4 linked regions of the Homo sapiens genome follow. The protein of the gene in region 4 interacts with the protein of the main gene of each other region in a pairwise test. Each region holds a gene or a part of one and is shown on either strand. Other genes may lie near its edges.

Region 1 (3,500 bases), on a different chromosome or scaffold from region 4:
TAACTTTCAATTTCTGGCTGATTTTTATATTTCAGATTCCACCCATCAACACGGAGGCCAAGGAAAATTTAATGAGCCAAATAACTTATGGCTCTTCAAATTACAAGATCTGTGGGTTTTAAAGTGTCATTGTGACTTGAACTAGCTGTCTTTCTTTCAAACAAGACTTACTTCAAATGTGATGGTCCAGCACCTCAGTCCGGCTTGATGACTTGTGCTTTTGTTTTTCCTCTCTGCATCAGTTAGCTGGCACCTCGGGTTTTGAATTCAGTTCCCTGGACTGTAAGGGGTTGAAGATTTGATTTAACTTATATTTAAAAAGGCAATGATCCCAGAACAGCAAATAATTCCTCAAGGAGCTTATTGTGTAATAAGGAGGAGATAAACACTGTCAAGACTCGCACTGTAATCAGTGCTGCCACCGAGTACAGGTGATGTCTCTGGAGATGGAGTAAAAAACACCCCATCCTTGGTGAAGGGAAACAAAGAAGGCCCCACCGAGAAGTGGGTATTTGGTGTGAACCCTAAGGGAGGGAGAGATGGAAAGAAGGAGAGGAAAGATGCTTGCCTCATAGTGCTTGCCTCCCCTCCTCTCCACAGATGGAAAGAAGGAGAGGAGGCAAGTATTATGAGGTAGGAAACCTGGAGGTGTTAGAGCACAGCAGGTATTGGATCAAGCTGAAAAACAGACAAAATGAGGACATTCTCCACAGGTGTCCACAGACTCAGTTACACGGAAGTTTATTCTGATCAACACATTGGCCATTTTACTGAGAACTAAATGTGATTTGGTGTTGACTCCTTTCTAAACTTATAAAAATAAAACTCAGATCTTAAAAATTCCATTGTCAGCATAGGTCCTAATCTGTGGTCCGGAAAACATCTGGGCATCAGGCCCACAAGGGGGTTAATGGGCTGTGGACACTGGGGTGCAAAGGTTTTCTGAGGGGAAGAGTGGTGAGATCTGGGCTTAAAAAGATGAATCGAGATGCAGTGTGTAGGAAGCATGGGCAAGGGATGAGGAACGCCACTTTGAAAATTACTAAAACTAAAGCAAGTGACTAAGAGTGTGAATGACCCTGGCTGCAATGACTACGCCTGCTGGGCTTCGTAAGTAATTATGGGTGTCTTCTGTTTTTGTCAGTATCACAAGGGAGCTTGACTCGAGCAAGGGAATGTATTATATGACTTTTGAAAAGGGTATCTTTTAATTAAGGTTTTCTTTAATTTTTCAGTATTAAAATTAGACTCTATTTCCTGAGCACCCACAAATGGACCTGACAAAGGGAAGACACAGATGTACTGCGTGATGAGGAAAGCCTATCAGGATTAAAATATGGCTGTGAGTAACTGTGGTCCTTCTTTATACTTAAAATAGCTGCCATGTGTTATTATGAAGGCTTCTGATGGTGGTATCAAAATCCTTTGAAATAATAGACTTGCACAGATTTCCCTGGTCATCTAAAAGAAAGATGTCATTATTCAGTTAAAAGCAAACTTGCACATTTTCTAAGAATCATTTTTACCAAAAAGGGACATTTTACTGCGAGACAGACATTTAAAAATTTACATGTCTTGAGATATTTTTGTATTGTGGTAGCAAAATGATTACATTTATTTCTTTTTCTCCACCTTATAATAGCTGATGCTTCCTTCAACTTATACATGCTGTTGGAGCTTTCTAAATCGGTAAATTATTGATTAGCTGATTGCAGGTTTAAAATCAAGCAGACTCTTCCAGGGATTTCAATCAGTCCTGGGCAAAATTGTGAATTAGTCAGCATTGGTTTCTGGATCTCTTTATCCCTTTAGCAACCACCTCCTGATTGTCTCTACCCACCATCCCTCATCCCTCCCCTAGGGCTCTCCAGTGGGCCCCCTGTTCACACCACCATGCCTGTCTTCCTGTCCTGTCCAGGAGTCCCTCATTCCCAGCTAGGTCTTCCTTCAATCGCCTTTCTACTTACCACACTTTCCCCTCCTTCAGGTGGGAACGGTCCTCACAAATTCCTGCTAGCACATTAATGTGCCACTTTCCTAGGTAAAATATTGCAATTTAGTAGGAGACGTTGATACTTTGACCAAAAGCAGTTATTTTTATAGGAACTTGGGCACCACAGTGTGCTGGGAGAGGAGAGGATTACAACTCCCAATGTGCTACAGAGTTTTAAAAATTCTTTCACCTCTATTTGCTCATAATTTGGTATATCAGGAAAGGTTTGGTGATGAAGACATTGGAGTATACACATATTTATATTTTAGGAGGCTTCTCAATGCAAAGAGGGTTAACCTTTCCTTTGTACCTTGCCTTTTAATCAGTAGAGGATGGTAAAACTTCAAATTAAAACTGATTTTAAAAATCATTCTAATACTTGGCATCCTCGTGCAGAATCTGAGTCCCAGAGTCATTCCTAGGGTGACTGAAGAGGCAGATATGGCAGATAATCTGAATCAGGATGAATAAGTTATTTGCTGGAATTTCTGGAATGGTTGCCTACCACTGCAGCCCCCAAATGAATGGTTTGCTCGCTGTAAATCCTGAGTTGTGGGTGAAGCCTAGAAAGTATGAGAGTTGATCCAGGAGAGAAGGATTTGGCATTTGCCCTGTATGGAAGAGAAGGCTGGGGAAGACTACTCCTGGGGTCACAATGTTGCTCATCAAGTGGAGATCCCCGGTGGGAAGGGAGGGACTGAGCAAGGTATCACCGTCCTAGTCAGCCTGCTTGTGCTGAGGAGGTCATTCTCAAGGACTCAAAAGGTTCTCTATCTAGTTCTTACCTGAATTTTTGGATTTCACAGATCCAGAAATCCTTACATCAGTTATACAGTTAATGGTCTTTTCTCTTCTTATATTTCCTTTTTGGATTATATGGTGTTTTCCTAAAGAACTTTCTGAAAATGGCCAGGCATGGTGGCTCATGCCTGTAATCCCAGCACTTTGGGAGGCTGAGGTGGGTGGATCACCTGAGGTCAGGAGTTCAAGACCAGCCTGACCAACATGGAGAAACCCCGTCTCTACTAAAAATACAAAATTAGCTGGGCGTGGTGGTGCATGCCTGTAATCCCAGCTACTAGGGAGGCTGAGGCAGGAGAATCACTTGAACCTGGGAGGCGGAGGTTGTGGTGAGCTGAGATCGCACCATTGCACTCCACCTTGGGCAACAAGAGCGAAACTCCGTCTCAAAATAAAAAAAAAGACTTTCTGAAAATGCATACCTGTCTCGGCTTTGTTGAGAATGGACAAAGAACAGGACTCTGGCCTCATTTGGGCTGGATGGAAAAAGGGCATAGAATGAGATTCTGATAATCCTGCAAGGAGAGCAGGAATCAAAGTGAGAGGATCCTCAGTAGGATATGAAAAAGCAAGGAGTATGTCAGGGATGGCCTCAGCATCTGCTCCTCTGTCATCAGCGGGCTTTCCTTTGGCCCAGCCCTTGGAGAATTTTATATTTCATATGATTAAGTATAGTTTGAATATTTTTGGTGGACACAGATGGCCC
Region 2 (2,834 bases), on a different chromosome or scaffold from region 4:
ACCTTGGGGAGACCTGGAGGAACAGTGCAGTGTAAAGATGGCCTCGCGCTGAGCGGGTCCCCGCAGTCGGCACTCCCAGGAGAACCAGCGGGCTGTGCATGTGACCCGCCAGCCTGCACCGCGGGCACGTCCTTCCCACCCAGAGGACCCTGCACTGCCTTCAGGGCCACAGCAGTCCTCCGGGGCCCAGCCTCAGGCAGGAAACAGCAAATGCTTTTGCTGCCAACCAAGTGTGGCTGTCGCTTTCGATGATGCCAGTGGCGCTGGTGCGACTGCCGGGCAGCATGTGTGGGCGGGGATGGCTCGGCCACTGACCGTCTCCCCGCAGTGGTGGTCCTGCTCCATGATGTCCGTGATGTGAGCGTGGAGGAGGAGAAGGTCCGGTACTTCGGGAAAGGCTACATGGTGGTGCTCCGGCTTGCGACGGGCTTCTCCCACCCCCTCACGCAGAGTGCAGTCATGGGCCACCGCAGGTAAGGCTGTGGGACTTTGATCTGGCCGGAGCTGCAGCCGTAGCAGGTCACTCCCGTTCCTGACTGCCCAGAGCTATGGGGCAGCTGGGAGAGGAGATGAGTTTGTGGACGGGACACAGAGGGGCCCACGGGAAGCGTGTGCAGGCTCAGGGGCAGCCCCACTGTGACGGGGAGGCTGGGAGCAGGCCAGGAAGTGCTGGGTCCAGTTTGGGAGCTCCAGGGTCTGCGGGAGGTAGGTGGTCGAGGAGGAGACTGCTGTGGGGTCTCACGGTGCCCTATGCCGAGGTGACCTGACCTTCCTCCCGTTGCCGGCCTCGCCCAGTGATGTGGAAGCCATCGCCAAGCTCATCACCAGCTTCCTGGAGCTGCACTGCCTTGAGAGCCCCACAGAGCTGTCTCAGAGCAGCGACAGTGAGGCCGGTGACCCTGCAAGCCAGAGCTGACAGCCCCACTGTGCCTGAGCCCGTGCACCGCCCACAGGACCCATGGCACATTCCCGGTGTGCCTGAGCCCGTGCACCGCCCACAGGACCCGTGGCACATTCCCGGTGTGCCTGAGCCCGTGCACCGCCCACAGGACCCGTGGCACATTCCCGGTGTGCCTGAGCCCGTGCACCGCCCACAGGACCCGTGGCACATTCCCGGTGTGCCTGAGCCCGTGCACCGCCCACAGGACCCGTGGCCTTGGCTTCAGTTGGTGCCTCCAGCCGAGTTGGCCTATTGCCTGCTCATGCTGCTGCTTGCACACTGCATGAAACAGCAGGCCAGACCAGGACATCCAGACTTTCTCCATCGTGAGGCCTGGGCCTGCCTTTCTGCAGCCGGAGGTCTCGCCAGCCCTGGACTCCTGCTTTGGGCCACAGCAAGACCTCGGGCGAGTGGAGAGGCGGGGCCAGGCCGGGCCCTTGTGGGTGCTGATGCTGCATGTTGTCCCCGACACAGCGTCCTCTCCCTGGTGGACATCCCCAGCGGTCAGGTGCTTCCCCAAGGGCAGTGAGGGGTGAACATCCAGGGCCTACCTGGCTGTGCACGCTGCAGCCACACTGTGGAAGCTGCCCCTCCCCGAGGACCCGCCTCCCTTGCTGATGCCAGGATCTCGGCGCATAGACCACTCTGCCCCAGCGGTCGTCACAGAAAGGTCTCTCTGTTCCTCACACTCAGCTTCAGCATAAGCTGTGAGGCCAGAAAAAAGGTCAGCTCTTCTAGTATCGTGCAGTGCTTAAAAACCGGGAGCTCCAGCCGGGCGCAGTGGTTCATGCCAGTAATCCCAGCACTTTCGGAGGCCGAGGTGGGAGGATTGCTTGAGGCCAGGAGTTCAAGACCAGCCTGGGCAACACAGCAAGATCCTGTCTTTGTAAAAAAACTAACCAAACAGGAAAAACTGGGAGATTTTCTGCAGAAATTGAGTTCCAGCCTCTCTCGAACCTGGGAAGACCTGGCAGGAGGGGGCTGGGCTCTCGGCTACAGACTTCTCCCCACCCCGTAGGAGCTGAACGCCAACCATCCTGACCCGCCAGTGCTCTTGGTCTCCTGAGTGTACCCAGGTCCTCCCAGGTGCGGTGTGCACCGAGCGCGCCTGGCCTGATGCCCTGGCCTGTGAGCTGGGGACTCCTGGGCCCTGTGAGCCCCTAGGCGGCAGGCCCAGGAATGGCTGGGTAGGACAGGGAACACCTTTGCCCCACGTCTGGCTGTGACCTCGGTGAAAGCCGACAGGAGAGAGATGGGACCCTCCTCCTCAGTAGTGGCTGCCAGTCCCTCGTTGCAGGACAGGGTCATCATAACCATAAATAACCCTTCACGTGTCACCTGCAGCTTCCACTCTTTATTTCCAAAGAATCAGTGTCACACATGCAGATCACAAAGCGGGTCTCCCTGTGCTGCTTCCTTCTGTGTTTTCTAGTCTCTCCCCCAGGGGCTGCCCAGGGCCCTCAGGAACTGAGTGTGGGCAAGACACTGCTGGGCCAGAGGGCACGACGCCCACGTGGGCCCGTATTGCCCAGGCCATTTGGCAGTGCAGAGCCCCCCCAGCCTCCAGCAGGAGCCCCCTGGCATGAGCTCTCCCCTCAGGGGTCCTGAGCAACGTCCCTGCCAGGGCTGGTGGGTGGCAGCGGGGGGGCAGACACCTCGCTGAGGTCCTGCAGCAGAGCTTGCAGCCGCTGCAGGCTGGGGTGCACGTTTTCCTCCAGCCACTCCTCCACGGCATCCGGGTAGAAAGCCAGCTGCAGGGCAGCCTCCAGCTCCTGCACGAGGGTGCTCCACTGTGCCAGGAGGCTGCAGGTGAGGGCGCCATGAACGCACAGTCTGCACACTTGGGACTTGCCCTCAGCCCCATGGTCAGTACTGCCCTGTGCCTCAGTTCACC
Region 3 (3,500 bases), about 14 Mb from region 4:
TTTGAAATGAATGCAAAAACACATTGTACTAAATCCTGCAGGTTACAGCAAAAGAAGTGCTAAGAGGGAAGTTTATAGCATTAAATGCCTACATCAAAAAAGTAGAAAGATCACAAATTAACAACCTAACATTGCACCTCAAGGAATTAGAAAAGGAACAAACCAAATCCAAAGTTAGCAGAAAAGAAAAAATAAAGATCAGAGCAGAACTAAATGAAACAGGGACAAAAAATTTACAAAGGATCAATGAAACTAAAAGTTCATATATTAGTTCTTGGGATCAATGAAAGTAAAAGCTGATTATTTGAAAAGATAGACAAAATTGATAAACCACTAGCTAGATTAACCAAGAAGAAAGAAGATCCAAATAAACACAATCAGAAATGAAAAAGACATTACAACTGATACCATAGAAATGCAAAAGATCATCAAGGACTATTATGAACAACTGCATGCTCACAAACTAGAAAAACTAGAGGAAATAGATACATCCCTGGAAACACAAAATCCCCCAAGATTGAACCAGGAAGAAATAGAACTTCTAAACAGACCAATAATGAGTAGTGAGATTGAATCAATAATAAAAAACTCCCAAGAAAGCTTAAGACTAGATGTATTCACAGCCAAATTCTACCAAACATACAAAGAAAAACTAATACCAATAATCCTGAAACTATTAAAAAATCAAGGAGAAAGGAATTCTCCCTAACTGATTCTCCGAGGCCAGGGTCACCCTGATACTAAAAACCAGACAAGGACACAGCAGAAAATGAAAACACAGACCAATATCCCTGTGAACGTAGATGCAAAAATCCTCAACAAAATACTAGTAAATCAAATCCAATGGCACATCAAAAAGATAATACACTATGATCAGATGGGATTTATTGCAGGGATGCAAGGATGGTTCAACATATGCAAATCAATAAATATGATACCCCAGGTTGCTGGATTGCGTGGTTTTTCAGTTCTTTGAGAAATCTCCATACTGTTTTCCCTAAAAGTTGTATTAATTTACATTCCCACCAACAATGTATAAGCATTCCCTTTTCTCCACATCCTTGACGACATCTGCTGTTTTTAGAGTTTTTAGACTTTTTTTTTTTTTTTTTTTTGTGGAGATGGAGTCTTGCTGTGTTGCCCAGGCTGGAGTGCAGTGGCATGATCTCAGCTCACTGCAACCTCTGCCTCCCAGGTTCAAGCAATTCTTCTGCCTCAGCCTCCCGAGTAGCTAGGACTACAGGTGCGTGACACCATGCCCAGCTAATTTTTGTATTTTTAGTAGAGACAGGGTTTCACCATGTTGGCCAGGATGGTCTCGATCTCCTGATCTCGTGATCTGCCCACCTTGGCCTCTGAAGGTGCTGAGATTACAGGCATGAGCCACCATGCCCTGCCTAGACTTTTTAATAATGGTCATTCTGACTGGTGTAAGATAGTATCTCATTGTGGTTTTAATTTGCATTTATCTGGTGATTAGTGATGTTGAGCATTTTTCATATGTTTCTTGGCCACTTGTATGTCTTCCTTTGGAAAATGTCTGTTTATGTCCTTTACCCACTTTTTAATGGGATTGTTTTTTCTTGTTGAGTTGTTTGTGTTCTTGTAGATTCTGGATATTAGTCCTTGGTCAGATGCATAGTTTGGCAGCCCCTTCCCCATCGGGCACCACCAGCAGCAGTTGCTATCATGGCCTTGAGGACTGCCGCATGGAACTTACATGTTTTAATTTTGCTGCTGTTAAACATTACACACTTTGCAAATTTTGCGGAGTAGAATATTAAAAGAAAAAACAGGTAAGCCATTAGGTTCCTAGGGCCTTTCTTTTAATTAATGATTTCAGAAAGCCAAAGGGGACCAGGGAGGGAAGAACTTGCTTTGATGAGACTCTTTGATCAGTGGAAGGTGTCTGAGAAGGAATCTAACTTTAGTGAGAACTTATTAATAATTAAAAACAGACCTCAAAATCTCTTGAGAATTTACTATATGCCAGGCCCTGTGCTAAGCACTTAACAGGTATTGTCTTATTAATTTCTTACAACCATGTAGGGTAGAGTTACTGTTTTCATCTTCATTTTCCAGAGAAGAAGACAGGCCTAGTAAGGGTCAGTAACTTGCCCAAGTTCACACAGCCAGTGAATGATGGAGCCTGTCAGGCTGCATTGTTAATCACCATGAGGATCTACCTCTAACTGGGGGCCTGGCCCTTTACGTGCATTAACTCATTTAATCTTCACAACACCCTTGTGTGGATGTTATTATCACTGTTCCCATTTGACGTAGTGAAGACAGTGTGGAATACTGGTTCTGAGCATGGACCTTGAAGCTATGGCTTCTGGGTTCAAGACTCTGCTCTTCCATTCACCAGCTGTGTGACCTTAGTTACTTAACATCCTTCTGCCTAGATTTTTCATCTGTAAAATGGCTTTAATTATATAACTTATTTTGTAGATGTTATGGAAATTAAATGAAGTAATTTGTGCATGGCATTTAGAACATGACCTGGTAAGTATTATTTAAATTATTACTACGATAGAGAGAAAACTGAGGCTCAGAGAAGTTAAGCCCAGGCTACCAGCCTGACAGTGGTGAGATTCTAGGAAGACAAATAGTGCCAGGGTTCATTCCCAGAGATGAACTCTAGGAAGCTGGTCTCATTTATGTTTGGTTGTGATGACTCCAGGATGCAGCTGCCTGTTGAGAGGTAGCACAGTGTGGTGGTAAGGAGCATGGGTTTTAGAGCCAGATGACCTGGGAGCATGTCGTCGTTCTGTCACTCACTAGTCATATGACCTTGGGCAAGTTACATAGCCAGCCTGAGCCTCACATCCTCATCTGTAATGCATCAGTTGTCACGTTCCTCATGGGCTGTTGTGAGACTGAAGGAAGTTCACTCACATATAGAGGGCTTGGGGCCTGACACAAACTGGGTCAATGTGTCTGCTCTGGTCATGATGCTGAAGCAATAGCTCAGTGGGAGAAACGGGAATTGACGGAGAGTCAGGTAGACATGGTTGGGTGTGTCGCCTGAATGGAGAGAGGAGAACTGGGAAGAAAATGTTAGCAGAATAAAGCCGGGGCAACAGAGCTTGCCAGGGCATAGAACAAGGGCGCAGGTTTACTTGTCAGAGGCCACCAGTCCTGGCTAAAATATTTCTGGTGGAACACATTGAAGATCAGTGTGCTCATGGTTTAGGTGTGGCTGTCACAAAAATAAAAAGGGAAGAAGAAAGGGAAATGTGTCATATTTCCTTTGGTAGAAACATGAGTCCAGGTTCTAATTCTTTTCAAAACAGGGCTACTGCAGTGTTTTTCAACAGTGTGTAGGTGGTGGCAGCTCCTGGATTTCACCAGTGTTTTCTGTGGACAGCCATCCCAACCACCAAGTTTTTAATGAATGCTGTGATGTTTTGATTTACTTAATTATTCCATGTAAATAAAACAGCTTTATCAGACAAAATAGGACTATACCATGAGATTATAACATAAAGTCAGAAGCA
Region 4 (2,662 bases):
CACAGACATAGACATACATTCTGTGGGAAACTAACATAGACATCACAAAGACAACTCACCAAAATTTAAGTATTTTACAAAGAGTTCCACTCAAGTATTCTATAAGAGCTCATTCACTCTTAGGTTTATGTGTTGTTTTAATAAGCATCTTTATATGACACAGTGATACAGGAGATAGAAATTATTTAGGCAGATAGTGAGGGTAAAAGAGTCCTCGGTGGAATTTCCCTTTTAACAAAAAGCAGCTCCAAAATCATTAATAGAACTGCCTGAAAAATTGAGCTGTAGACATAGACAAGCAAGCTGGAAGCTTGCACAGGTGAATGCCAGCAGCTGTGCCAACAGAAAAGGGCTACCTGGGGGCCACGTATGTTCAACATGGAGGGTCCATCGTCCCTTGTCTTTGTGTATACAGTAAAGAAACAGGTAATATGGTGCCAGCCAAGTAGAGGACCATCTGCACAATAAAAGATTAGGGTGGGGGGTGGCCAGATTTTCATGCACTATGCGAATGGTACACCTGATCTGACCAATCTTTCGTGCCCTGTGTAAATCAGACTCCGCCTCCTCAAGCTCATCTTTAAAACCTATTGCATTTTGCTGTGGACCGGAAAACCCACTCGGGAACCCTCTCTGCAGGAGAGAGTTCTTCTCTTTCTTGTGCCTATTAAACCTCCACTCTTAACCTCACTCCTTGTGTGTTCGCATCCTTGATTTCCTTGGCCTAAGACAACTAACCTTGGGTATTACCCCAGAGGAACGATGCCACTTCAACGGTATAGTATAATGGTTAAGATCATGAACTGCTATGTCATTTGGGGCAAGTTACTTAATCTCTCTGTGCTTCAGTTTTCTTGTCTAAAAACATAGATGATAATAGTGCTTACCTGTCTGAGATGTTGGGAGGATTAAATGCACAGACACATTTTAACACTTAGAATAGTGCCTCATACATGTTAAGAACCCAGTAGGTACAATCTCTTGTCTGATGTGTCAGTTCACAGATTAGAAAGTAGAAAGATCAAATTAAAAATAGATGGAAAATCTATGATTAGCAGATATTAATGGAAAAGTACGAGGCACAACACTTCATGAAAGAGTATGAAAACACCAGAAGCACAGCATTATGTCACCAGTGAGTACTTCTGCACAGAGCAAGGTGGCTGCTACTGTTTTACAGGACAATGAGATAACTGTCCAAAATGATTACTTGCTCCTGAGACATTAGATCATTAGCTTCCTGATGAAGCAGAGAAATATTTTACATAGTTCGGGAAGAGTCACCTCAAAATTTGTTAAGTTAAAAAGGTTTGGCTTCAGACATCTGGAAAATTAATTTGCATGGCAACTTCATTTAACATCATTACCAAATAATGTGGCACTATTTTCTCACATCTATCTTTGAAGAAATTGATATAAAACAGCCTTGGATCATGTTTAGCTGATTCCTTACCTATGTGCTCGGTACTTAGTACAAAAATGGACTTTTAGTGAATAATTAGCATGAATATATTAATATTTTAGTAATAATAATTATAATAGATTTCAGAATTAGAGGCAAACTGGCTGGGTGTGGGGGCTCATGCCTGTAATCCCAGCACGTTGGGAGGCCAAGGCGGGCAGATCACTTGAGGTTTAGAGTTTGAGACCAGTCTGGCCATCATGGTGAAACACTGTCTCTACTAAAAATACAAAAATTAGCTGGGCATGGTGGTGCATGCCTGAAATCCCAGCTACTCGGGAGGCTGAGACATGAGAATTGCTTGAACCCGGGAGGCAGAGGTTGCAGTGAGCTGAGATCGCCCCACTGGACTCCAGCCTGGGCAACAGAGGGAGACCTTGTCTCAAAAAAAAAAAAGATTTAGAGGTAAACCATTCAAGGATACAAAATTTCAGTTAGGAGGAATAAGTTCAAGAGGTTTACAATACAACGTGGTGACTATAGTTAATAACAATGTATTAGTTATTCAAAAAAGTAAGCCATTCAATAAATATATATGCCGATGATTCAACTCTGTGAAATGCTGTCAGTCAATTACTTGATTTTTACCCTTTCAATAGTCTCTGGGGCTTAAATTGTATCTATATTGGCTTAAGATCTCCTACCTCTTTAGACTAATTCATTTTAAGCTAAGAAACTGTGCCAGAAAAGTAATGTTTCCTTTTCAAATCTGTGAATAAAACAAGGCAGAGGTTGATAATTAAGTACAGTTTATCATGTTTCATATCTTGGCACTGTTTAAAGTCTATTTCAGTTTATCTTAAACAATCACATTTATTTTTAAAATGGTACAGTAAATTCTATCACCTAGGATGGCTGGGGAATGAGACCTATTAATACTGAACACTCTAGAATGGGAGGGGTCCTTGGAAGTCATGAATTCAACTTATTATCTTTTAAAAACATGGCAAAAAAGCACTTGTAGAGTGACATAGCAAAACTGGCATGGGAAGGACCTCCAAAGAATCTCTACTCATATAATCAATGAAAACACTGGTAAAAAACCTGTTAACCTCAATTTTTCTAGAATTCTGGAAATTAACCAAAGTCTTGCGGCAATCTGAGGAGCGTTTATTCACGAAAAGCTGCTGAATCTCTTAGGAACAGCAAGTGCTATGGAATTATCATTTGCCCTATTCCCATCCCTGCTCCCCTCAGCTG

What was found.
Region 1: the proteins of TSPAN12 (region 4) and CTXN3 interact in binary tests that used the Homo sapiens proteins (3 or more experiments, as listed by UniProt).
Region 2: the proteins of TSPAN12 (region 4) and CYBC1 interact in binary tests that used the Homo sapiens proteins (3 or more experiments, as listed by UniProt).
Region 3: the proteins of TSPAN12 (region 4) and TMEM140 interact in binary tests that used the Homo sapiens proteins (3 or more experiments, as listed by UniProt).

Annotation. Positions count from the first base shown.
Region 1 is NC_000005.10:127,652,082-127,655,581, forward strand, and holds part of CTXN3 (cortexin-3), read left to right. Parts: intron 1-171; exon of another isoform or gene 172-280; intron 281-968; exon of another isoform or gene 969-1,110; intron 1,111-1,235; 5' UTR 1,236-1,342; intron 1,343-3,500.
Region 2 is NC_000017.11:82,442,086-82,444,919, reverse strand, and holds the end of CYBC1 (cytochrome b-245 chaperone 1), read left to right. Parts: intron 1-328; coding exon 329-473; intron 474-795; coding exon 796-916; 3' UTR 917-2,327; downstream 2,328-2,834. Other genes in the region: HEXD (hexosaminidase D), read right to left, coding at 2,328-2,743. UniProt on the Homo sapiens protein: Functions as a chaperone necessary for a stable expression of the CYBA and CYBB subunits of the cytochrome b-245 heterodimer. Controls the phagocyte respiratory burst and is essential for innate immunity.
Region 3 is NC_000007.14:135,151,072-135,154,571, reverse strand, and holds part of TMEM140 (transmembrane protein 140), read right to left. Parts: intron 1-3,500.
Region 4 is NC_000007.14:120,789,483-120,792,144, forward strand, and holds part of TSPAN12 (tetraspanin-12), read right to left. Parts: intron 1-2,662. UniProt on the Homo sapiens protein: Regulator of cell surface receptor signal transduction. Plays a central role in retinal vascularization by regulating norrin (NDP) signal transduction.